Homo sapiens: one gene and its partners. The protein of the gene in region 3 purifies or fractionates together with the protein of the main gene of each other region. This does not show direct contact. Each region holds a gene or a part of one and is shown on either strand. Other genes may lie near its edges. The genes, in order: RHOBTB1, INPP5A, PSG3, MAST3 and MEGF8.

The links.
Region 1: the proteins of PSG3 (region 3) and RHOBTB1 purify together in Homo sapiens (co-immunoprecipitation; one large-scale study listed by IntAct). This does not show direct contact.
Region 2: the proteins of PSG3 (region 3) and INPP5A purify together in Homo sapiens (affinity purification with mass spectrometry; one large-scale study listed by BioGRID and IntAct). This does not show direct contact.
Region 4: the proteins of PSG3 (region 3) and MAST3 purify together in Homo sapiens (affinity purification with mass spectrometry; one large-scale study listed by BioGRID and IntAct). This does not show direct contact.
Region 5: the proteins of PSG3 (region 3) and MEGF8 purify together in Homo sapiens (affinity purification with mass spectrometry; 3 studies listed by BioGRID and IntAct, with this or other methods). This does not show direct contact.

What each region holds. Positions count from the first base shown.
Region 1 is NC_000010.11:60,871,186-60,874,685, reverse strand, and holds part of RHOBTB1 (rho-related BTB domain-containing protein 1), read left to right. Parts: intron 1-2,395; coding exon 2,396-2,501; intron 2,502-3,034; coding exon 3,035-3,204; 3' UTR 3,205-3,500.
Region 2 is NC_000010.11:132,648,916-132,653,200, reverse strand, and holds part of INPP5A (inositol polyphosphate-5-phosphatase A), read right to left. Parts: intron 2,784-4,285; coding exon 2,696-2,783; intron 1-2,695. UniProt on the Homo sapiens protein: Phosphatase that specifically hydrolyzes the 5-phosphate of inositol 1,4,5-trisphosphate to inositol 1,4-bisphosphate, and inositol 1,3,4,5-tetrasphosphate to inositol 1,3,4-trisphosphate. Plays a crucial role in the survival of cerebellar Purkinje cells.
Region 3 is NC_000019.10:42,737,257-42,742,305, forward strand, and holds the start of PSG3 (pregnancy-specific beta-1-glycoprotein 3 precursor), read right to left. Parts: upstream 3,226-5,049; 5' UTR 3,195-3,225; coding exon of another isoform or gene 3,129-3,194; coding exon 3,065-3,128; intron 1,834-3,064; coding exon 1,468-1,833; intron 1-1,467.
Region 4 is NC_000019.10:18,128,277-18,132,561, reverse strand, and holds part of MAST3 (microtubule-associated serine/threonine-protein kinase 3), read right to left. Parts: intron 4,163-4,285; coding exon 4,104-4,162; intron 3,697-4,103; coding exon 3,611-3,696; intron 2,069-3,610; coding exon 1,860-2,068; intron 654-1,859; coding exon 515-653; intron 1-514.
Region 5 is NC_000019.10:42,359,651-42,363,935, forward strand, and holds part of MEGF8 (multiple epidermal growth factor-like domains protein 8 isoform 1 precursor), read left to right. Parts: intron 1-1,124; coding exon 1,125-1,356; intron 1,357-2,439; coding exon 2,440-2,563; intron 2,564-2,733; coding exon 2,734-2,947; intron 2,948-3,397; coding exon 3,398-3,612; intron 3,613-4,285. UniProt on the Homo sapiens protein: Acts as a negative regulator of hedgehog signaling.

The DNA of each region.
Region 1 (3,500 bases), on a different chromosome or scaffold from region 3:
GGGGGAGGTTTTGTCTCTCCTCCTTCTTTGAATTCTTGGACATGTATTTGGCCAAGAAGAGACAGTTTCTAGAATTCCATGAAGCCCCGTAGTGCCTCCCCTGTTAATGAACATCTCATTGCAGCTGTTCTGGAGTTTTCTAAAGTCAGAAGTTGCTAATATTGAGATTGTAATAACATAATCCCAATACAGACTTGCCCTCTTCTTCCAGAGAAGGTCCAAGATTCAGCTTTAGCTTCACCATGGAGTAACTTCCCCAAAGCACAAGCTAAACTCTGCCTCACTTTCCTCATCCACAGGAAATGGGATGACAGTTTGCATCCTACCAACCTTACAGATTATTCTGAGAATGAAGTGGGAGAGAATGTTCAAGAGCGAGCACTGAAGAGTGTAAGCCCTCTTACAATGCCAGGCACATCTGCAGAATTATCTAGTCCCTGGCACAGGCTGATTAACAATGAATTTACACTCTGAGGAAACTAAGAATAAATTCCTCAGTCTTTTCTTCGGCCTGTTGGGTTTGGCTTCCTGTGCTCCCTCTTTCTGTTAAGACAATGACTTACTAAGTCTTAGGTCAGTCCATTTAAATCAATATTTCTCAATCAAAGGAAAGGAGGTGGTTTCAGGGAGAGGAGGTGGCATCCAGCAGGTGCTGCTCAGGCCCTTCCTACTGTGGCCAGAGGAGATTGCTCTGGTGCAAAAGGGGGAAAAGGCGGAATTGAACTTTACAGCGACCTATTCATTATGACTTAGCATTCAACAAGTATTTGTTATTTTTCTCCCCAAATACCAGGCACCGCCCTAGGCAAAGGCCGTGTACATATAAATGGTAGATCCTCTGCCCCAGGGCAATCATAGGCAAGTAAGGGAAACAGACACAAACACAAATTATTAAAATCCAATTAGGGATTACAGTGAAACTGAGAATAGACATCTAATGCAGTCGAATCAGCAAGCCCCCATCAAAACTGGTTGTTCACACTTGGAATTTGGGGTCTTTTGAAACAGTTCCAGGGGATGGTTTATAACCTGTACTCTCTCCAGCAAGTATTCCTCCTAGAGAAAAATGTAATGATCCAGAATTTCATATTGGGACCATTCACTTGAGGGAATGATTTGCAGTTGTGTCTGTTTGTTGCACTGTGTTCCCACCTTACCCCCATACACACCCACTACAAGGAAATAATATGATTATTGCTAAGCCCTGACAAGCCTTGGCAGGAAGAGCTTAGGATGGATTCTCCCATGCTCATTCATTAGACCCTAACCTAGTGATGTGCTGGTAAGTGTTTAACAGTCAGCTTGAGGGCAAGTGGGACCCCAATCTGTTGCGTTTGCCAATTTCTATGATATAAATACTCCCATCATGGCTGATGATAACATATGAAGTCACTAAACTCAAAGTAGGGAAGAAATGCACACAATTGGTTCTCTCAAGCTGGAACAAACCCACCTGGCAGAACACTGCCCCAGCCTTGTTTTCAGAGAGAAATCTAACAGCAAGAGAAGTTGGAAGCACCAGCTAAAACTGTCTCTGATGTTTGGGTTGTGATTTTCAGTGAGTCTCTTGAGTGGGTTTCTGAGGTCTCTGGCTTTTCTATTGGCCTCACAGTGGAGATATGGGGCCACAGAGGAAGCATGCTGTAGGTTCTAGGGATCCACCTGACCAAAGAAACATCAAGAGCGACAGACAACAGAAGGGAAGTCAGAGAAGGGCACAGACAGAAAGTGAGGGATCGCAGCAGGCCCACCAGGTCTGGGGAGGGAATGGGGGAGTAGATAGTTGATTTTTGAGGATCTAGTCTTTTTTAATCATAGCCACCTCAGCTGCCACCTTCCTGAGCATTGCTTAGAATGGAAGGGTGGAGTATCTGGATCTCTCCACCCTGCCCATACCGCCTGCTCTTCTTATGTAACCAAAGGAGAGGTATAGGACAGTCACACATTCTGCAGTCTCCTCTTTCGGATCTTGGCCCCAGCAAGCTGAGCTCTGACATGCGACACGAAGTATTCCATTGCGGAGGCTTCCTTAAACAGAGATGACATCGCTGCTTTCTGCTGTGGGCTGGTGCCTTCCAGAGGCCACGGTTGTTTAGCACTAGAGGGCCAGGTGGCAGGGGAGGGCGGGAGGGCGAGGCATACTTTAAGCTCGTGATTCGATATTAATTATTTTTGTGCACCTATGACAGCAGGGAAAGGAGGGGTGTGCCCAGCACTACATTGGCTGGCATTGGAGCCATGGCCAAAGTCAAAACATTGAGGTCAAAACAAGAGGTTTACCGAATTAGTTATATAAGCCCTTCATTTCTTTTCACCCTTAAAATGGCTTCCCCAATTTCTTTGTAGCCCCTCTTTAGAAAATAGTCTTACCCTCCTTTTGCTCACTTTTCTGCAGTTTCACAATGCCCACCAGTTGGCCGCCTGGTGTTTGCACCACATCTGCACCAACTACAACAGTGTATGCTCCAAGTTCCGTAAGGAAATCAAATCAAAATCTGCAGGTGAGACTGTGTGAGGCCCCCATTCATCCAGCTCTCCTCACCTCTCATGGAAGCTTTTATCTTCTATGTCCCTGGAAAGGAACATGGTCAGCAGGCAGCTCATGGATGATTCCTCGAGACTGGCTGGTGGTCACATATTAATGTGAGATGACATAAGGAATTGAAGGCTGGGAATTGTCTTTGGAGAACTTGATGATGAGGGGAGTTGGGTGGGCTAGAGTCCAGGGTGCCCTGTTGCAGAGAGTGCAGAGGTGGTGGCCTTCCCCTTGTTTAGGGAGACAAGCTTAGGAGCAGGCTTAGACTCTGAAATCAGGTGGTCCTGGGTTCAGGTTCTCTGTGCCCAGCTGCATGACTACAGGTAAGAGATTCTTCCTCTCAGAACGTTAGTGTCACCTTTTGCAAATGGCCCTAATCACAGTCTCTGCCGCATCACGTTTTTGAGAGGATATTTGAGAAGCTTTAAGCTCAAGGCCTAGCACATAAAAGGCATCAATGAACCGCAGGTCTTATGGTCTGCATCTTTCCTTCACCAGACAACCAGGAATACTTCGAGCGGCACCGCTGGCCCCCTGTGTGGTACCTGAAGGAAGAAGATCACTACCAGCGTGTGAAAAGGGAACGAGAGAAGGAAGATATTGCACTAAATAAGCATCGCTCAAGACGAAAGTGGTGCTTCTGGAATTCATCTCCAGCAGTGGCCTGAAGAGGAAGAGAAAAAAAACAAAAAACAGAAACCAATCGGTAATCTGATCCACCACTTTTCAAAGCACTACTATAAAATTCGTCTTGTTAGAGATACGACATAGTTCAGGTTTCGGGCACTGATCTTCCTCCACTTTTGTGCATTTATCTTTGTTAGGATCAAAGCACAAGCTCACCATCAATGAGCCTGGACAAAAAGGGAAGCTGACTCTCACTGCATTCCTTAAACTGATATGTATATTTTTTTTGTTAGGAGGCTTAATAAACTTTAGTCTGTTATTTTGTTTCTTTTTATAC
Region 2 (4,285 bases), on a different chromosome or scaffold from region 3:
ACTACAGCATGACGGCTGCCCCTCCGCCAGCCCATGTGTGCCTCGCTCTCAGGTATCCCAGCCAGGCTCGGACAGACGGAGAGGCCTGCTCTGGCCAGGGCCCAGCACGCGGGTGCCTTCTGTCGGTGGCTGCGTCCACCACTGCTCTGGCTGGAGAGCCTCAGATGCCAAGGGTGCGGGTGGCGGGCACTGCCCCTCCGCCCACCTGCACATCGGCCAGCAGGAGGGGACTGTGGGGTCCTCCTGCGGTGCAGAGCCTCCCGTCTCCACCCAGCCCTGTCGGTTTCGCGTCTAAGTGAGCTCTGATATTAGGGGCGCACGTTCACGACCGCTATGTCCTCCCAAAAAGCTGACCCCTTATCATCGTGAAATGACCGCTCTCAGCCCCGACAACACGCTCGTTCTGAGGGCACCCTGACATGCAGACAGCCACTCCTACTTTCTTCTAACGACTGTTTTACAAGGTACATCCTCCTCCGTCCCTTCACTTTTAAAATACCTGTGTCTTTATATCTAAAGGAAGCTGGAAAGAGCTGAGCGATGGTCCCCATGAGGAAGAGGTAGCTGGCGACTGGCACAGATGAGGCTCCCATGGCAGGGCAGCACGCAGAGACGGGGAGCAGAGCCCCACTCTTCCGAGGATGATGGGTGGCAAGGAAGGGCCTTCATGTAACTTGCTTTCAGCAATCGGACCTTGGCCTGCGTTGGTATGTTTATTCGGCTTGAAGCTTGTTGCAGTATTTGGATCTTTCTGTAAGTTTCATGGACTGATGAAGAAATCTGAGCCATGACATCTGTAAGCATCACCCTGTCTGCCTCCTTTCCCCGCTCCTCCTGGGGCTGCAGCCACACGTGTTAGGACACCTGGTATTTCACAGTGATTTCTATCCACTTTTCAGTCCTTCTCTCTGTTTCACTTTAATTTTGTGGCTGTCTTCAAGTTCAGTCACCTTCTCTTTTCTTCTGCAATGTCTAATTTGCTGCTCCCCCAGTGGTGTTTTTCTTTTTCATCTGAATAAGCCCCTACTTGGGAAACACATTACGTTGGGTCATGGCAGAGGAGAGTGAGAGGGTCAAGGAAGCTGCCATTTTATGGAAAGGATGGCAGAGCTGAGAGAAAGAAGCTGGTAGGGAGGAGGGACCAAGGGGGAGAGGGAGGAGGGACCAAGGGGGAGAGGGAGGAAGGCTGACAGGAGGAGCTACATCCTGAGCACAGGGGTGAGGGCCTTGGCTCTGGTGTGAGTGGGGGCCCCGTGGTCCCCGTGTGCCCCACAGAGCGTGAGGAGAGGCCGCTTGTGTGTGGGCAGCTGCTTGACAGGGCGAGGGTCGGAGACCGAACGGGGGATTCCCGGGATTGTACAGACTCCACTACTGGTGGGGACCACGCATGACAGCTGTGTGACCATCTCAGGGACAAGGACATTGATCAACTGGCACTGGATGCCCAAACAAGTGAGATGGCCCTTGAACCCAAACAGCAATGAGAGTCCCACCTGCAGGGCAGGGGGGCACTGGAGAGCGAGACCCTCAGCACTGCAGCCTACGGGGGCCCACCTGGGAGAGGGCAGATTAACAAGGGCCTGTCACGTGACGGCGCAATGACGGCTAGTGGGCGCTGATGCTGGGGACAGAAGGCCAGAGATGGGGGAGAAGGATGCAGGGCCTCTCCAGAGACGGGGGAGATGGAACCAGGCCGGGGGACCCAGGGCCTCCCCAGAGATGGGGGAGATGGACCCAAGCCGGGGGACCCAGGGCCTCCCCAGAGACGGGGGAGATGGACCCAGGCCGGGGGACCCAGGGCCTCCCCAGAGACGGGGGAGATGGACCCAGGCCGGGGGACCCAGGGCCTCCCCAGAGACGGGGGAGATGGATCCAGGCCGGGGGACCCAGGGCCTCCCCAGAGACGGGGGAGATGGACCCAGGCCGGGGGACCCAGGGCCTCCCCAGAGACGGGGGAGATGGATCCAGGCCGGGGGACCCAGGGCATAAAGACGGGATTTAAGACGTGGGTCTCTGAACCAACAGCAAGTTATTCACGACCTGCAGAGTGTCCCCTCCTCTGAGGAGCTTCCTGCCCCTTCCCAGACACCTGGTGCCTGTATCTCTGTGGCTGCCACGTCCACCAGGGCCACCCTCTCATGTGTCCACCTGACAGAGGACCGCAGAGGAGGGACAGGTCTTTCCCAGCCCTGTGGAAGGCTCTGTCCCACTCCCCCTGTGCTCACCCTGAGGAACAGCCTCTCTCCGAGGCAGGACACCGCCCCAGCCCTGCACACTCAGGGATCAGGAAGGGACGGACCCAGCATGGGAGCAGGGCTGGCGACGGTGGCTCTTGAAGCAATACCGGCTGCTGTCCAACCTCTCATCTACACGCCTGGAGCCCCGGACTCCCTCTTATTTTCATGCACGCTGAGGCCCTGGGCCTCTCCCCACCTGTCACTCCCCAATTCCCTCTTGGGCTTGGTCTGGAGCCCCAAGACCCTGTGCGTGCTGGGCCACCTTCCCTGCCAGGCCAGCCATGGGCTCAGACCACGAGCAGACCACCAAGCAGGCTGCGGGAGTGCCAGGCAGGGCAGCGTGAGTGAGGCTTCAGGCAGGGAGCACCCCGACCTCTCTCCATTTACACAGGAGAAGGGCTGGCTTCTGCCAAGGCCAGCCTGTCTGACCCCTGCACCAGGCAGCGGGAGGGACTCACCGTGAAGTGCTCCTGGGATTTGTAGTTTTCATCCAGGTAGACTCGAGCCCTGTTATATTCTTTCATCGCATCACTCGACAATAGTTCTCTGGAAGGAAGAAAGTAGGTTCCTGAGGAAAAGCCACACAGACGCCTTGCACCTCATGAGATGACCACAAGGTATAAGAGGGGCTCCAGCACATAGGTACATCACCGTGAGACCATCCACCCGTGACAGGCAGAGGGCAGGGAATGGCGGCAGCCACCGCAGGAGCTGGCCTCACGTTCAGCTCTCAGCATGTGCAGAGCTCAAGCTCCCACAGGCTCTGGTCTCCACGCAGCCTGTGAGATGCCGGGGTCTGAGGCATCCCAGGGATGGAGACATTGAGAACTCACCCAAGGTCTCATGCCAGGGAAGCGCAACTCCAAGCTCTGGGGGCTCTCCTGATAGCTCACGCTTGGTCTTAAGAGAGAAATTGGACCCCCAGTAGCCACCAGCACACACAGGTTGGGGCACATGCACCCCAGGGCCCAGGTAGTTCTGTCCCCATCTGCTCCTCCCAGAAGTGGCAGCGAGAATGGTGGTTGAGTTGCCACGGCCTTGCAACCACACAGGAGGGAAAGGACCTCTGGACACGCCATTGTCCCCGACCGTTCATCCTACTGGTCACATTTTATCATCAGGAAGGCCTTAAGGAGACAAGCTCACCACCATCTCCGCAAAGCATGGCTGCACAGGAGGCCACCGCACACCCCTGGAGCCCATGAACGGAGGACGAGGCCCCGTCTGCCTGGCCCCTCCACAGAGACAGTCCATCATCCCCCTACCCACGCATGCTTATTCAAGCCAGTGGGGAGAGAGGAGACCAGCACCCTGTGATCCAGCCAGTCCATGTGTCAGGAAGAAGGGGGGTCCACATTGAAGAAAATAAAACTGCACCAGTAGAGAAGGGCAAGGCAAAGAATGCCTTGACAGACCCACACTGATCCCCATGTGGCTTAACTGTTGGTAAACACAACCTTCAACACGCTTTAAAGGAAGAAAACAGGGCTCAAACACTAAACAACGTAACATTCGCAATGTCTGCCATCCTACGGAAAATAACTTGATATGAGAAGCAGCAACACCACGTGAATGTGTCCCGTCATCCTACGAAGAAGCCGTCAACAGAAACAGACCCGGAAGAGGCAAAAATGACGGAGTGAGCTGAAAGCAACTGGGAACAGTCATTGCAACTGTGACCAGACAGCGAAAGGAACGCACAGACGGAAGGAAAAGCGAGGACAGGGAAAGCACACGTGAGGCTTCTGGAAGGAGTGGACAAACACAATGTCAGAAATAAAACGAACTGACTGCATGGACCTAAGAGAAGATCAAAATCTGCAACAGAAAAGAGCCCAGCCACTTAAAAATACAGCAACAGAGGCGATCCAAACCGAAACACAGGGAAAATGAGCTGAAAACAATCAGAAGAGCTTTAGGGCCCTGTGGGGCAGAACCAGGCAATCTAACATCAGGTAACTGGAGCCTAAGAACAAAAGAGAAGGGAAGGAAAAGAAAAATAGTATTTAAAGAAATAATGGACAAGGACAAATTTTCCCCAAATTTGA
Region 3 (5,049 bases):
AGGGACAGGTGTGGCTAGAACCTCCTAGGATTCTGCATGCAAATTCAGTCTCTAAAGAGGTTTTGGATCATTCATTTCTTCATTCCATTTCTTCATTTGTTATGTAAGAGCTCCTGAGTGTGTCTGTCTCGCTGGGCCTATGGTGGTGTAGGGTGTGAGTGGGGAAAGAAAACAAGGTCCTCTCCTTGATCCTCTTGTGACAGTGACATGGACACTTTGGGAAACACAGGATTTCAGGTTCAGTGATGGTGGTTAAGATCTGAGGGGGAGGCCTGGACATGTTTTTTCCACTGACTCTGACGGTTGAGGTAGGTGATTTAGTTCTGGAATACAGACTAATCAGTTGACCGTTTGCTCTCACTCCTCTGAGGTTTGGATGCCTAAGAAGAGAGGATTTGAGCCAATAAATGACTATAGGGTGATTGGAACCCAGTAAGCCCTCACTTCTGGTGGAGGAGAGGGTGGGCCTTTGGCTCCAGACACACCTCATGTGACCCTGATCTCCCCTTTGTGTTTGTGTGACTCTGGTTCAGTGACTGTGGCTTCCTGTGCCTCAGTTTTCTCTCAAACAAATAAGCTAAATGGCAAATGGACTGTGGCTTTTCATGCTATCTGTGAATAAATGTTAAATGATTCACAGTCACGTGACCTAATTCTTGGCACAGTGGAGGTTTCACACAAACAGCATTTATTATTAATTTGCTTCCATGAGAAAGCACCTTTATGTCAGATGCCTGTGGACAAGCTGCTACCTGGTATATCTTCTCTCCTCTGTTTCTGCTTCTGGGGACATTAGACTTTCTATGGACTGGCCTAAGCCTCCTAAGGCAGTTGTCTGATGGCCTACAAAGCTTGTCTTTCTGTCCTCTCCACTCTGAGTGTCAGGTGAAGAAAGCTCTGTCCTTGCCCAGATGAGGCTCTGAGGGCTGAGCCCTGGCTGGTGAACAGCTCCAGGAGACACAGTCCTCTGACAGCTGGTAAATCCTTGGTCCCAGTAAGCCCTGCCCAAGAAGCGACAACCCAGCCCCAGTACAGGCTCCTCAGATTTATCTGGAGCAAGGATTTAGGGACATGGTTCTGGGGGTGAGGCTTCTAGGGCTGAGCTTCTCTGAGAGTATTTCATGGGGCCCCTGAGGCCAAGCCCTACTCAGTTTGCCAGGGTCTTTCTCAGGGTCAAATTTATGAAGAGAGCATGAGGTGCTTGGCTGAGACTGATCTCCTCCTGCTGAGTCCCCCCATCAGACTGTCCTTCCTCTGCAGCGAGTGTCTGCAGGGTCTGGATGCGGGAAAGGAATTCTGATCTGTTGAAATTTGTCTCTTCTGTGTGTGTCCTGCACTAAATGCCCAAACCCCAGCATGGGACATAATGCAGAGAGGGACACAGGCACAATCCAGGCCTGACAATCCTTTGTGTGTGAAGTAAAGACCCCATCCCCCAACACCCAGTGATCACGTGGAGTCACTCACGGTATAAGGTGAAGGTGAAATGTCCAGTTTCTCCTCTAGTCCCATCACCTCGCTTTACGATGTGTAAGGTGTAGGATCCTGCGTCCTCCCGGGTGACATTCTGGATCAGCAGGGATGCATTGGAATATACTGTTTCTCGTCCACTGTATGCAGGCCCATATATAATTATTTGACCATCTACTACGTATGATGTAATGTAATGGTAGAGGTCCTTCATTTGCCCTTTGTACCAGATGTAGCCAGCAAGATTCTGGGGCAAATTGTGGACAAGTAGAAGAACGTCCTTCCCCTTGGAAACTTTGGTTGGCTCGGCTTCAATCGTGACTTGGGCAGTGGTAGGCAAGTTCCAGAAGTTTAAAAGTAATGCTAGGAGGTGGAGAGAGCATCAGTCAATATTGAGACCTATGCATTGGGGTGAAAAGATGTGGCCCTGGGTCCTGAGAAGGTCTCTTCAATCCTCAGCTTTGAAGAGACACACACACACACATACAAACACACACACACACACAAAAGGGGCATGTGTATATGTGTTTGTGTCCTACTCTCCTACTAGGTGAAGGTCAGCAACATGACCCCCATTCCTTCAACACTTCTGACCTTGGCATTTTTCTGTTTGGAATCCTCTTCCCCAGGGGTCCGCACGGCCCCCTCCACACTGCCCTCAGGTCCTGCTCACATCAGGGCATCCTTAGACTTCTTTCCTGACGCCTCCTTCAGAGACCCTGGGTCTTCCCTTTCTGACCTTTCCCTGCTCTGCTCCCTCCAGGGTTCTTCTCAACACCTGACCTCACATTCTAGAACTCTTTGCATGTCTGTCTTCCCCCCCATGACAGCGTGAGCTCCGTGAGGACAGGGACTTTTGTGATCTTCTTTGCACCCCAGTGCCTGGAACAGGCTGCAGACTCCTGTAGATGTGAGAGTTCTCAGGGCCCTCCATGCCCTGGGTGTTTTTTCTTCCCCCAGTTGTTGAGGTTTTTTTGCTGAGGACAGTGTTTCATGCCCTGCTTATATTTTTATTTGAAGTGTCATCTGATATAGTTATTATTATCATTTTTCAAAATGTGGTGGCCCCTGATGATTAATCAGGAAAACAGAACACTTAAGATTTTCCTACCTCTTACCAATTCTGGTTCCTGTGACTTTCCTGTTTTGACCCCTGTCCCTCTTGGGTGTATTTTCCCCTATCCAGGCTCCAACAGAGACTTCTTTCCTTTTTTTCTTTTTTCTTTCCATTCTTTTTTTTTTTTGAGACGGAGTCTTGTACTGTCGCCCAGGCTGGCGTGCAGTGGCACTATCTCGGCTCACTGCAATTTCTTCCTCCCGGGTTCACGTGATTCTCCTGCCTCAGCCTCCCGGGTAGCTAGGATTACTGGAGCACACCACAATATCTGGTTAAATTTTTGTATTTTTAGTAGAGACAGGGCTTCACTGTGTTGGCCAGACTGATCTTGAACTCCTGATCTCGTGATCCACCCTCCTCAGCCTCCCTAAGTGCTGGCTTCTTTTATTTTTTAGAACCCCAGGAGTCTCTCCAGGAGACCCCATCCAGTCACTCTGCTTCCTCCTCCTGTCCTCTCCCAGGAAGTTCTCTCCTCACCTGTGAGCAGGAGCCCCTTCCAGGTGATGCGCTGTGTGCAGGGAGGGGCTGAGAGGGGCCCCATGGTCTCTGCTGCCTGCGTGTTCTCCTCTGTGGAGCTGAGCCTAGGATCCAGAAACTTCCTGAGCATGGCTCTCAGCTGTGCTGTCCTTCCTCCTTCTGCGCTGAGCCTCTTCCCGGGGCAGGAGCACTTCTCAGGTTCATGGGCGGGGTCAGGCCCAGGACACCTCTCTGTCCCCTCCTCTCTCAGTCCTGCCTCCTTGTCCCTCCTGTTTTTCCTTTTGTCTGTGTTTCAGGTCCCTGGGAATTGTGGAGGCCTCTGCCTTTTTCAGCAGTGATTCTTTCACCAAGCCTCATCACACACTTTGTGCAGACACACACACACACAGACACACACAGAAGAGACACACACAGACCCACACAGTCAGAAACATACCCTGCAGGTTGGGCAAGCAGAGTCCTGGGCCTCAGCCTCCTGCTGTCCCCATGGCTCTGGGTCGGGGTGCACATTCATGCCCTTTGGCCTCTTTCATCCCCATCTGGCTCTCCCCTTCAGTGCAGGAGGCTGGAGCTGAACCAGGTCCCTGTCACAGTGACACCCCATTGTGCTGTGGGTGAGCTGTGTGTTGCCTGATGAGAGGGAACCTTCCTTTTTCTAATCGTGTCTAGCTTGGCTGCAGCTTCCAAGGATGGACATTCAGGACCTGGGTGTCCCAGAGGAAACTGTCCTTCCTGGAGGTGTGCAGGATGAATCTCTCATGCCTCTTGTGAGGAGAGGCCTGTGCTGGTTGCTCAGTGGGGGGCTGTGAGTCCCATAGTCAAAGGGACAGTTCTCGGTCACTCTATGGCTCCCTGGGGTCTGGCGGCTGAGCTGGAGCTCATGGTTTCTCATGTTCTTCCTGACCATCTTTGATGTCCTCTCTTCTCTGCCCAGCTTATTGTCCTGTGGTCACCACACCTTCCCCGTGGTGGTGCAGGAGGAAGTGGGGAGTTACCCAGGAACCCCGGGGGACATGGCTCATTGAGATGCAGGAGGGGGAGCCTGGGACAGAGCAGGGGTTCAGAGCTGGAGAGATTCATCCCAACTTACTCTGTGGCCATGATGGGCTCAGCCATCCATGTGCCGACATACCCAGGGGTCTGTCCTGAGGTTTTTGACCTGGCCAAGCTGCTGTGTGTAGAGGAGGAACAGGTAGTGGCCAGAGAGCCTGTCTGGAGGGACGTTGCTCACACCTGAGTGGGCGTGTGGGGGTGAGTTGTGTTCTGGGAGCAAAGAGCAATAACATCCCCCTTCTCCCAGCAAGCACACAGGAGAGGTCTGTCTTCCCAAGGGACAGCTGGGGGTAGGTGGCCACATCCCGGATGGTGCCTGTGTGTGAGCATCACACGTGCTCTGAGCCCCCCGGGGTGCAGGGAGCAGGCAGGACACAGGGTGCCTGGCTGATTCCCGGGGAGGCTGTGGGCCCTCAGGCAGCCACTGTTCTGTGTCAGTGCTAGGCTTGGCCTGGGATGCCCCAGAGAACAGGACAGATGGAGCAGGGGCAGGCATTTAGGGAGCAGTGACAGAACGAGTTGATGAGGATGGAGGGAGGCCACGAGGGGAAAGCACCCAGTGTAGTGTCGCGTGCACCAGCACTGCCCTGGGAGATGCCTTTAGCTGGGCCCAGGGAAGGAGCAGGTGTGTGGGGAGGAGCTCCCTGCAGGGGGAGTGGTGTTAGGTTGGCGGCCCCCAGGTCAGGGAGGAGCTGACAGAGTCCGTGTGGGGAGCATGGAGGGCGCTGAGGACTTGGGCCGAAGTGACCCTGGTGAGGGTGGACCCTGCTGGGCTGTGGGTTCCGTTGAGGGCGGTTGGCATCCCCTGGGAAGGCTCCAGGCTGGGAGGGACTCTGTCCCCCTCTGGTGGACAGGGAGGGAAATGTGAACGGCAGCAATCCCAGGCCAGGCTGCATGTTTTATTCCACATGGATCTGCACACTTCACACGAG
Region 4 (4,285 bases), about 25 Mb from region 3:
CTCTCAGTAAACACGTTCTCTTCCTTGCTTTCCTGCACTAATATACAGCAGGTGCTCAAGACATGCACGGTCACTGTCTTTACATGTAAGGTCTCGCAAATTGCATAATCCTGTTCTGTGTGTGTAGTTGGTGTCTTATAAGTGCATGTTCTCTCCCCTTGTGCAGCAGCAGCTCTGGGTGCGCAGCCCCTTCTCCTGTATACAGTGTGTGCATCCTAAGTGCACATCCTCTCCCCTGGATTGGCAGCACCTCCATAAGTGCACCGGCCTTCCCCTGCATACAGCAGACGCCTATTAAGTGTCTGCTCTCCTCTCCTCTGTACACACAAGATGTTCACCATGCGCTCATTCCCTGCCTTCCTGTCAGGAGGTACCAACAGAGCTCAGACAGATGGGGCTCCTGAAGGGTCCCGGGATGCACCTCAGAGGCTCTGCCCTGATCCTCTTTGGCCCCGCCCCTGATCCTCTCTGGCCCCGCCCTCCGCGAGGCCCCGCTCATGCTAGCTCAGCTCACTTGTCTGGTTTGAGGTCACGGTGCACGATGCCATAGTTATGCAGGTACTCCAGCGCCAACACCGTCTCGGCGAAGTACAGGCGGGCCATGTCCACGGGCAGCGGGCCCATGTTCTTCAGGAGCGTGGCGCAGTCGCCGCCTGGGAGAAGGGCGGATGTAGTCATGAGGCCCGGGGCACCCCCGCCCCCCGCCCGCCCCTTAGGTTATGCCCAATGCCTATGCATCCTCCTCGCTTTACCTCCTGCAAAAGGTCCCCAGTTTGTTCTATCTCAGCGGGGAGGGTCGGGGGAGAGGGAAGGGGCGGACCCTACCTTCATTTATTTTTAATTTTTTAATTTTTTCTTCTTTTTGAGAGAGAGTCTCGCTCTGTCGCCAGGCTGGAGTGCAGTGGCGCGATCTCGGCTCACTGCAACCTCCGCCTCCCGGGTTCAAGCGAGTCTCCTGCCCCAGCCTCCAGAGTAGCTGGGATTACAGGCGCACACCACCACACCCAGCTAATTTTTGTATTCTTAGTAGAGATGGGGCTTCACTATGTTGGTCAGGATGGTCTCGATCTCTTGACCTCGTGATCCACCAGCCTTGGCCTCCCAAAGTGCTGAGATTACAGGCGTTGGCCACCGCGCCTGGCCTATTTTTTAAATTTTTATTTATTTTTTTGAGACAGAGTCTCACTCTGTTGCCCGCTCTGTTGCCCAGGCTAGAGTGCAGTGGCGCAGTCTCGGCTCACTGCAAGCTCCGCCTCTAGAGTTCAAGCGAATCTCCTGCTTCAGCCTCCCGAGTAGCTGGGACTATAGGCGTGAATGGGGGTTTCGCCATGTTGCTTAGGCTGGTCTCGAAGTCCTGACCTCAAGCGATCAGCCCACTTCGGCCTCCCAAAGTGCTGGGACTACAGGCGTGAGCCAGCGCGCCAAGCTGAGACCCTGCCTTCTGATTCTCCCCGACAGGGCAGCAATTAGTGCTGTATACAGCTGGTGTCTCCTAAGTGCATGTTCGCTCTCTCGCCTGGCAGTACTTTGGTAATAGTACTTTACCTGCCTGAACCATACATCTCCCTGCCTTCACTTCTGGTCTCCAGGCCTCTGCCCATCAGTTCCCCCCACCTAGGATGGCCACCCTCCTCTTGCCTCCAGGGTCCCATCCTCACACACTCCTGTCTGGGCTCCTCCAGCCCTAAACCCCCATGGCTGGGCTCCCTACCCCAGACTGGGGTTCCTGAGGGTTCCCCAAAGCAGGGTGAGACCTCATGGAGGACAGAACAGACCTCAACTTGGTCTAAAAATTTTCTCCCAGGCGTGGAGGGGTGAGCTCCCCATCGCTGGAGGCATGCAAGCCCCAGTGAGCGTACCTTCCACGTATTCCATGACCATACATAGGTGGCGCCGGGTCTCAAAGGAGCAGAACATGCTGACCACAAAGGGGTTCTCGGCAAAGGTGAGAATGTCACGCTCCACAAAGACCTGCTGGATCTGGTTACGCAGGATCAAGTTCTGTTTGTTGATCTTCTTGATGGCAAAGCGCTGCCGTGTGTCACGGTGCCGCACCAGGTAGACGGCCCTGGGGACAGAGGGCCAGGCTTGCTGGGACCGGAGATCGAGGCCCCAGCAGGCACTACAGCTCAACTTGAGCCCAGATCCCAACCTGCCTGGCCTTTGCCTGTGCTGTGCCCTCCACCTGGGCCACCCATTCTCCTTACCTGTTCCCCCTCCCAGAGCAGCCACCTTTGGGTTTAAGCCACCATGGCTGGGGGCCATATAAATGGGCTGCACATGGCCCTTGTATATTGGCCTCTAGGTTGTATGTTTCTTTTATTTTTATTTTATCTTATGTTTTTTGAGATAGCGCCTCACTCTGTTGCCCAGGCTGGAGCACAGTCATGAGATCACGGCTCACTATAGTCTTTACCACCCCCCCGGCTCAAATGATCCTCCCACAACAGAACCTGGCTAATGTTTAAATTTTTTGTAGAGATGGGGTCTCGCTATGTTGTGGAGGCTAGTCTCAAACTCCTGGCCTCAAGTGACCCTCCCACTTCGGGCTCCCAAAGTGCTGGGATTATAGGCGAGAGCCACTGCACCTGGCTGCTTGTGTATTTCTTTCTTTCTTTCTTTCCTTTTTTTTTTTTTTTGAGATGGTCTCACTGTGTCACCCAGGCTGGAGTGCAGTGGGGTGATCTCGGCTCACTGCAACCTCTGCCTCCTGGGTTCAGGTGATCCTCCAACTTCAGCCTCCCAAGTAGCTGGAATTACAGGCATGTGCCATTACGCCCAGTTAATTATTCTATTTTTAGTATTGATGGAGTTTTGCCATGTTGCCCAGGCTGGTCTCGAACTCCTGGCCTCAAGCGATCCTCCTACCTTGGCCTCCCAAAGTGCCTCCGCACCTGGTCTAGCTCTTTTAAAAGACCGCTAGCACCAAACTCAAAGTTTTACACATCCGTTTGTTTTACACACAGACCAAGTAAGCAAAATTTTAGCCACTGAGAGCCTGTCTGCTTTGCAGACTCGTGAAACTGCACCATCTCTGAGCCATGGATAAGATGAACTTTGTGGATTTCAAGACCCTAAGCTGCTACCACCCTGCAGGGAGTCTCTGACCCAGAGATTGAGTGCCCATGCTGTTGAACAACATCACCTAGACATGTAAGCCCCCTCTCTGATCCCCCTCTGCCCGGGGAGTTCCCTTGCCGGCCTCTCCCTCTTGATGGTGACTCCTGGAACCTCAGCCTCCAAAAGGCTTATGCTATGAGGGACTTCCCTTGTATGCAAGCCTGCCATTCAAAGCAGCACCTAAATAAAGCTCACTGCGTGCTACTCCCACTGGGTGGGCATCTATTTCCTTGATCAGCCCCCAAGCCCCTAGAACGCCCTACACCTGGGGCAGGTAAAGGCCTGGCTCGTGGACAGAGCACACATGAGGCTGTAACCTCGCTATGGCGTGTCTCCACTTCCCCCTCCAGTCCTCAGGTGCCTTCTCTGCCCATTCAAGGATGAATGTGTGAGCCCTGCTGGGGTAGGAGGGGGATGCAGGAGCTGCCTGGGCCTCAACCATCCCCTCAGGCATCTGTGAAATGGGTCTATGCAGGACTCAGGGACTCACCCATAGGCTCCGTTGCTAATGAGTTTGATGGTCTCAAAGTCGCTTTCGCATGGCTTCCTCCGTGACTGGCCGACCAGGGCGCGGCTCTAGGGGATGGGAAGGGCTTAGGGTCCTGCCCCGCTGCAGAGCTGGGAAGGCTTCTCCTGCCCCCAAGCCCAAACCACTGGTCCTGGTGCCCGATGCTACCTCCTCCCCTGTCCAAACTTCTCCAACTCAGCTTCTGACTTTCTGTACTTTTTTGCTCACAGCTGTGCCCTCCTCCTGGGAAATTCTTACACGTCCTGCAAAACTCACCTGTCCAGTGCCCCTCCAGCACTGCCCCCACCCGACTTCCAAGGCAGGGCAGTCCCACGTGCCGTCACCTTGCCTCCAAAGTCACCGATGCTAATTAAGCTACATGCAAGACCTCGGCAAACCCAGCCCTTTCTGCGGGTGCCTGGTCCACTCTGGAAAGAACAAGATGAGCGGGGGTCCCCCAGCCTCTGCTACTCACCTCTGGGGACTCAGGTGCTGGGGGCTGTTCTTCTTCGAGGTGACTCAGTGGCACCATCTCTGCAAGATGAGGGAGGAGGCTCAGCTGGAGCCTCCCTGCCTCACCCTGCATCACCCAGCAATTTCCTGAGGCCTCTAGAGTTCTCACCCCAGGCTGGGGATGCAGTGCCTCCCCTGACCAGC
Region 5 (4,285 bases), 380 kb from region 3:
TTTTCTTTTTGCTTCTCTCTCTGACCCTTTGTCTCTTTTTCTATTTTTATTAGCAACAGGGTCTCACTGTGTTGCCTAGGCTGGAGTGCAGTGATGCTATCTTGGCTCACTGTAGCCTCTGCCTCCAAGGCTCAAGCAAGCAATCCTCCCTCCTCAGCCTCCCAAGAAGCTGGGACTACAGGCATGCCACCACGCCTGGATAATTTTTTTTTTTTTTTTTTTTTTGTAGAGACAGGGTTTTGCTATGTTGCCCACGCTGGTCTTGAACTCCTGGGCCCAAGCAGTCCACCTGCCTCAGCCTCCCAAAGTGCTGGGATTTAATTCCCTTTTTCTCTTAATCTGTCTTTTCAGATTCAGTAGACAGAGACTACTTCATGTCTGTGTCTCTCAGTTATTTTTTGAGGATTTAAAAAAATTGAGGTGAAAGTCACATAACATAAAATTAACCATCTTAAAAATACATTGGCTGCAGCCTGGGTGACAGAGCAAGACTCTTTCTCAAAAAAAAAAAAAAAAAGCATTGGCATTTAGTGCCTTCAGAGAGTTGTCCAGCCGCCACATCTATCTGGTTCGAAAACATTTGTCTCTCTTCTTATTTCCCTCTTTGTGTTCCTTTGTTGTCTGCTTGTGTCTCTCTCCCTCTCTTTTTTTTTGCTTGCTGTCTATCCTCATGTGTTTCCTCTCTGCTTCTGCTGTTTTTTTTTTTTTTTTTGGAGACATGGTCTTGTTCTGTTGCCCAGGCTGGAGTGCAGTGGTGCAATCTCAGCTCACTGCAACCTCAACCTCCTGGGCTCAAGTGATCCTCCTAATTTAGCTTCCCAAGTAGCTGGGGCCACAGGTGCGCACCACCATGCCCAGCTAATTTTTTATTGTTTGTAGAGACGGGGTCTTTCTACGTTGCCCAGGCTGGTCTTAAACTCCTGGGCTCAAGCAGTCTTCCTGCCTCAGCCTCCCAAAGTGTTGGGATCACAGGTGTGAGCCACCGCCCTTGGCCTTGTTTCTGCTGTCCTTTGACCCTGTGTTTCTCCTCTTTCCCTGCATCCTTCTCTGACTGGCATCATGGTGTGGGTCTCTTCCTGGAGTCTCCTGCTCTCTATCTGTCTGAATACACCATCTTTCCTCAGGCTCGGCCTCTGTGGGGCCCCCAATGGAGGAGTCTGTGGCCCATGCTGTGGCAGCAGTCGGGAGCCGCCTGTATATCTCTGGGGGTTTCGGGGGAGTGGCCCTGGGCCGCCTGCTGGCACTGACCCTGCCCCCTGACCCCTGCCGCCTGCTGTCCTCACCTGAAGCTTGTAACCAGTCTGGGGCCTGCACCTGGTGCCATGGGGCCTGCTTGTCCGGGGATCAGGCCCACAGGTAACCATGGCGACCATGACAGGCAGTGGGGAGTGGAGCCCTCTAATGGGGGTCCTGTGCTAGGCCACACCAGGATGGAGGCCTCAGGAGTATACCGTCTGGTTCAGGAAAGGGGTGAATCACCGCAGGCAGGGTGGCCGGGGGAGCTCTGAGTGGGGATCCCTGCCTGGGACTGGGGTCTCATGCAAGAATGCTTGCTGGAGGAGCTGGGTCTGAACTGGGCCTTAAAAGAACGGTAGAGTTGAGACCATCAGTGATTCAGAAGTGAGGCTGAGACCGGAAGCTGGAGGGGGTCAGCTCAGAAAGGGCTTCCCATGCCTGGCAGAGGCACTGGCTCTGTCCAGCTCCACAGATCCTTCAGCTGCGGTTCCAGGAATGCAGACATCCTGGACACTGAAAGTGTTTTCTTAGGCTTAGCACAGACTCACTTCGCTGCCCAGTCACCCTCACTGATATGAGGCTATTAGTTGGCCTTATTTGCCCGAAGGGTGTGTTGTCAGTTACTACAGGAATGTTAATGGTTTGATTTCGGAGTGCTCCTTACCCCAGACCCCACTGGAGGTATTGTGTAACAGTGGGTACACCCACTGCTTTTCTAAAATCCAGAACAGTCTGAAACGTGTGTACCTCTTGGGATTTGGGGTAAGGGATTGTGGACCCCCCCTGTGCAGGACAGGGAGCCATGGAAGGCCTGAGCAGGACAGGGCAGGGACGGGCCTGGGCAGTGAGATCCCTGGCGCTGTTGTGAGGGGTAGAGTGACGAGAGCCTGCAGGTGGGGACCAGGTTGGGCAAGGGGCTGCAGGGGTGGGGAGGAGGGGACGGTCAGGGAGAAATCCAGGAGGCAGAAGGCTTCGGTGGCTGCATGGGCAGGAGGACCTGGGGTGTGGTCCAGCGTCTCCAGCCTGGGTGACAGGTGGATGTGGGACCATCTATTACCAAATGGTGGTGGGGACAGCCAGGCTCAGGAGGCCTGTGCTATGTCCAGCTTGGGATGCAGGGTTGGGGGCCTGCAGGACAGTGTCTGGGAGGCAGAAGGAGGGGGTCTGGATGGGTGTGAGTGAGCCAGGCCTCATGTCCTTTAGGCTGGGCTGCGGGGGCTCCCCCTGCTCCCCAATGCCTCGCTCCCCGGAGGAATGTCGACGTCTCCGGACCTGCAGTGAGTGCCTGGCCCGCCATCCTCGGACCCTGCAACCTGGAGATGGAGAGGTGAGTGGTGGGGAAGGCAGGGATGAGAAGCAGCAGGTGTAGGGCAGGGAGGTCCTGGTCTCCACTCTGGTCAGCTGTCCCACCCACCCCAGGGTCTCAGGAACCACCGAGTTCTCAGCTGGCTCAGGAGGGGTGCTGAGGGTCCCATCTAGCCTGTCTTCCCTCACCAGGCGTCCACCCCCCGCTGTAAGTGGTGTACCAACTGCCCCGAAGGTGCTTGCATTGGACGCAATGGGTCCTGCACCTCTGAGAATGACTGTCGGATCAACCAGCGAGAGGTCTTCTGGGCAGGGAACTGCTCCGAGGCTGCGTGCGGGGCTGCTGACTGCGAGCAGTGCACGCGGGAGGGCAAGTGCATGTGGACGCGGCAGTTCAAGAGGACAGGTGAGCAGTGGGCCTAGTTCCTGAGAGGGGAGTCTTGGGGCCTGGACTCCTGGGTCTGAGGGAGGAGGGGCTGGGGGCCTGGTCTCCTGGGTCTGAGGGAGGAGGGGCTGGGGGCCTGGACTCCTGGGTCTGAGGGAGAAGGGGCTGGGCCCCTGATCTCCTGGGTCTGAGGGAGGAGGGACTGGGGCCTGGACTCCTGGGTCTGAGGGAGGAGAGGCTGGGGCCTGGACTCCTGGGTCTGAGGGAGGAGGGGCTGGGGGCCTGGACTCCTGGGTCTGAGGGAGGAGGGGCTGGGCACCTGATCTCTTGGGTCTGAGGGAGGAGGGGCTGGGGCTGGATTCCTGGGTTAAGGGAGGAGGGGCTGGGCCTGAGCTCCTGGGTCTGAGGGAGGAGGGGCTGGGCTTGCGATCTCCTGGGTCTGAGGTTCTAATCCCCGTGCCCCACCCCCAGGGGAGACCCGCCGCATCCTCTCCGTGCAGCCCACCTATGACTGGACGTGCTTCAGCCACTCTCTGCTGAATGTGTCCCCCATGCCGGTGGAATCATCACCCCCACTGCCCTGCCCCACCCCTTGTCACCTCCTACCCAACTGTACCTCCTGCCTGGACTCTAAGGGAGCAGATGGGGGCTGGCAGCACTGTGTTTGGAGCAGCAGCCTGCAGCAGGTACTGCACCTGGCCAGGACCGTGCCAGGCAAGGGCCCGGGCAGGTCTCCCTCCTCTCTGCGCTGGCAGGGACCTTTCTTCCACCATCTCCTCCACCCTCCTCCTTCCATCTCCCTGGCTCTAGCTGCAGTCGTGCTTCCTTCTCGTGCCACCATCTCTTTCCTCCCTCGTTGCCTCATGAGGGTCCCTGTTGTGTCCTCCAGCCATGCTTCTGTGTGTGCCACTTTCCCAACCCCTGGCCTCTGCCTCTCCAACTCTTGTCCATGGTATCATGGTCTCCTCATCCTTTCCATGACTTTAAAAAAATTTTAATTTAATTTTTTGTTTTTAATTTTGTCGATATAATTCATAGGTTCACATCCACGACTCTTAATGCTTCTTCCTTCAACCTCCCAAACCTTTTCTGCTTCCCTCCTCTCTCTCTTTCTCTCTCTACTTATGGAACTTTTGGTTATAAGAAACAGACACTCCCTCGAGCTGGTTTTGTTATAAGGAAGTGTGGGTATTTGATGGACTCTGAGAGCAGGAAGTGTTTCTGCTCTGTTGCTCTCAGGCCACATGACCCGTAATCTCAGCTGTTCTCCACACTTCTCCATTGTCGGGTTTCTGTCGGTCTGATAGTCAACACACATGGCCTCAGATTGCAGCCTTGACTCCCAGTCTAGATGCCTTC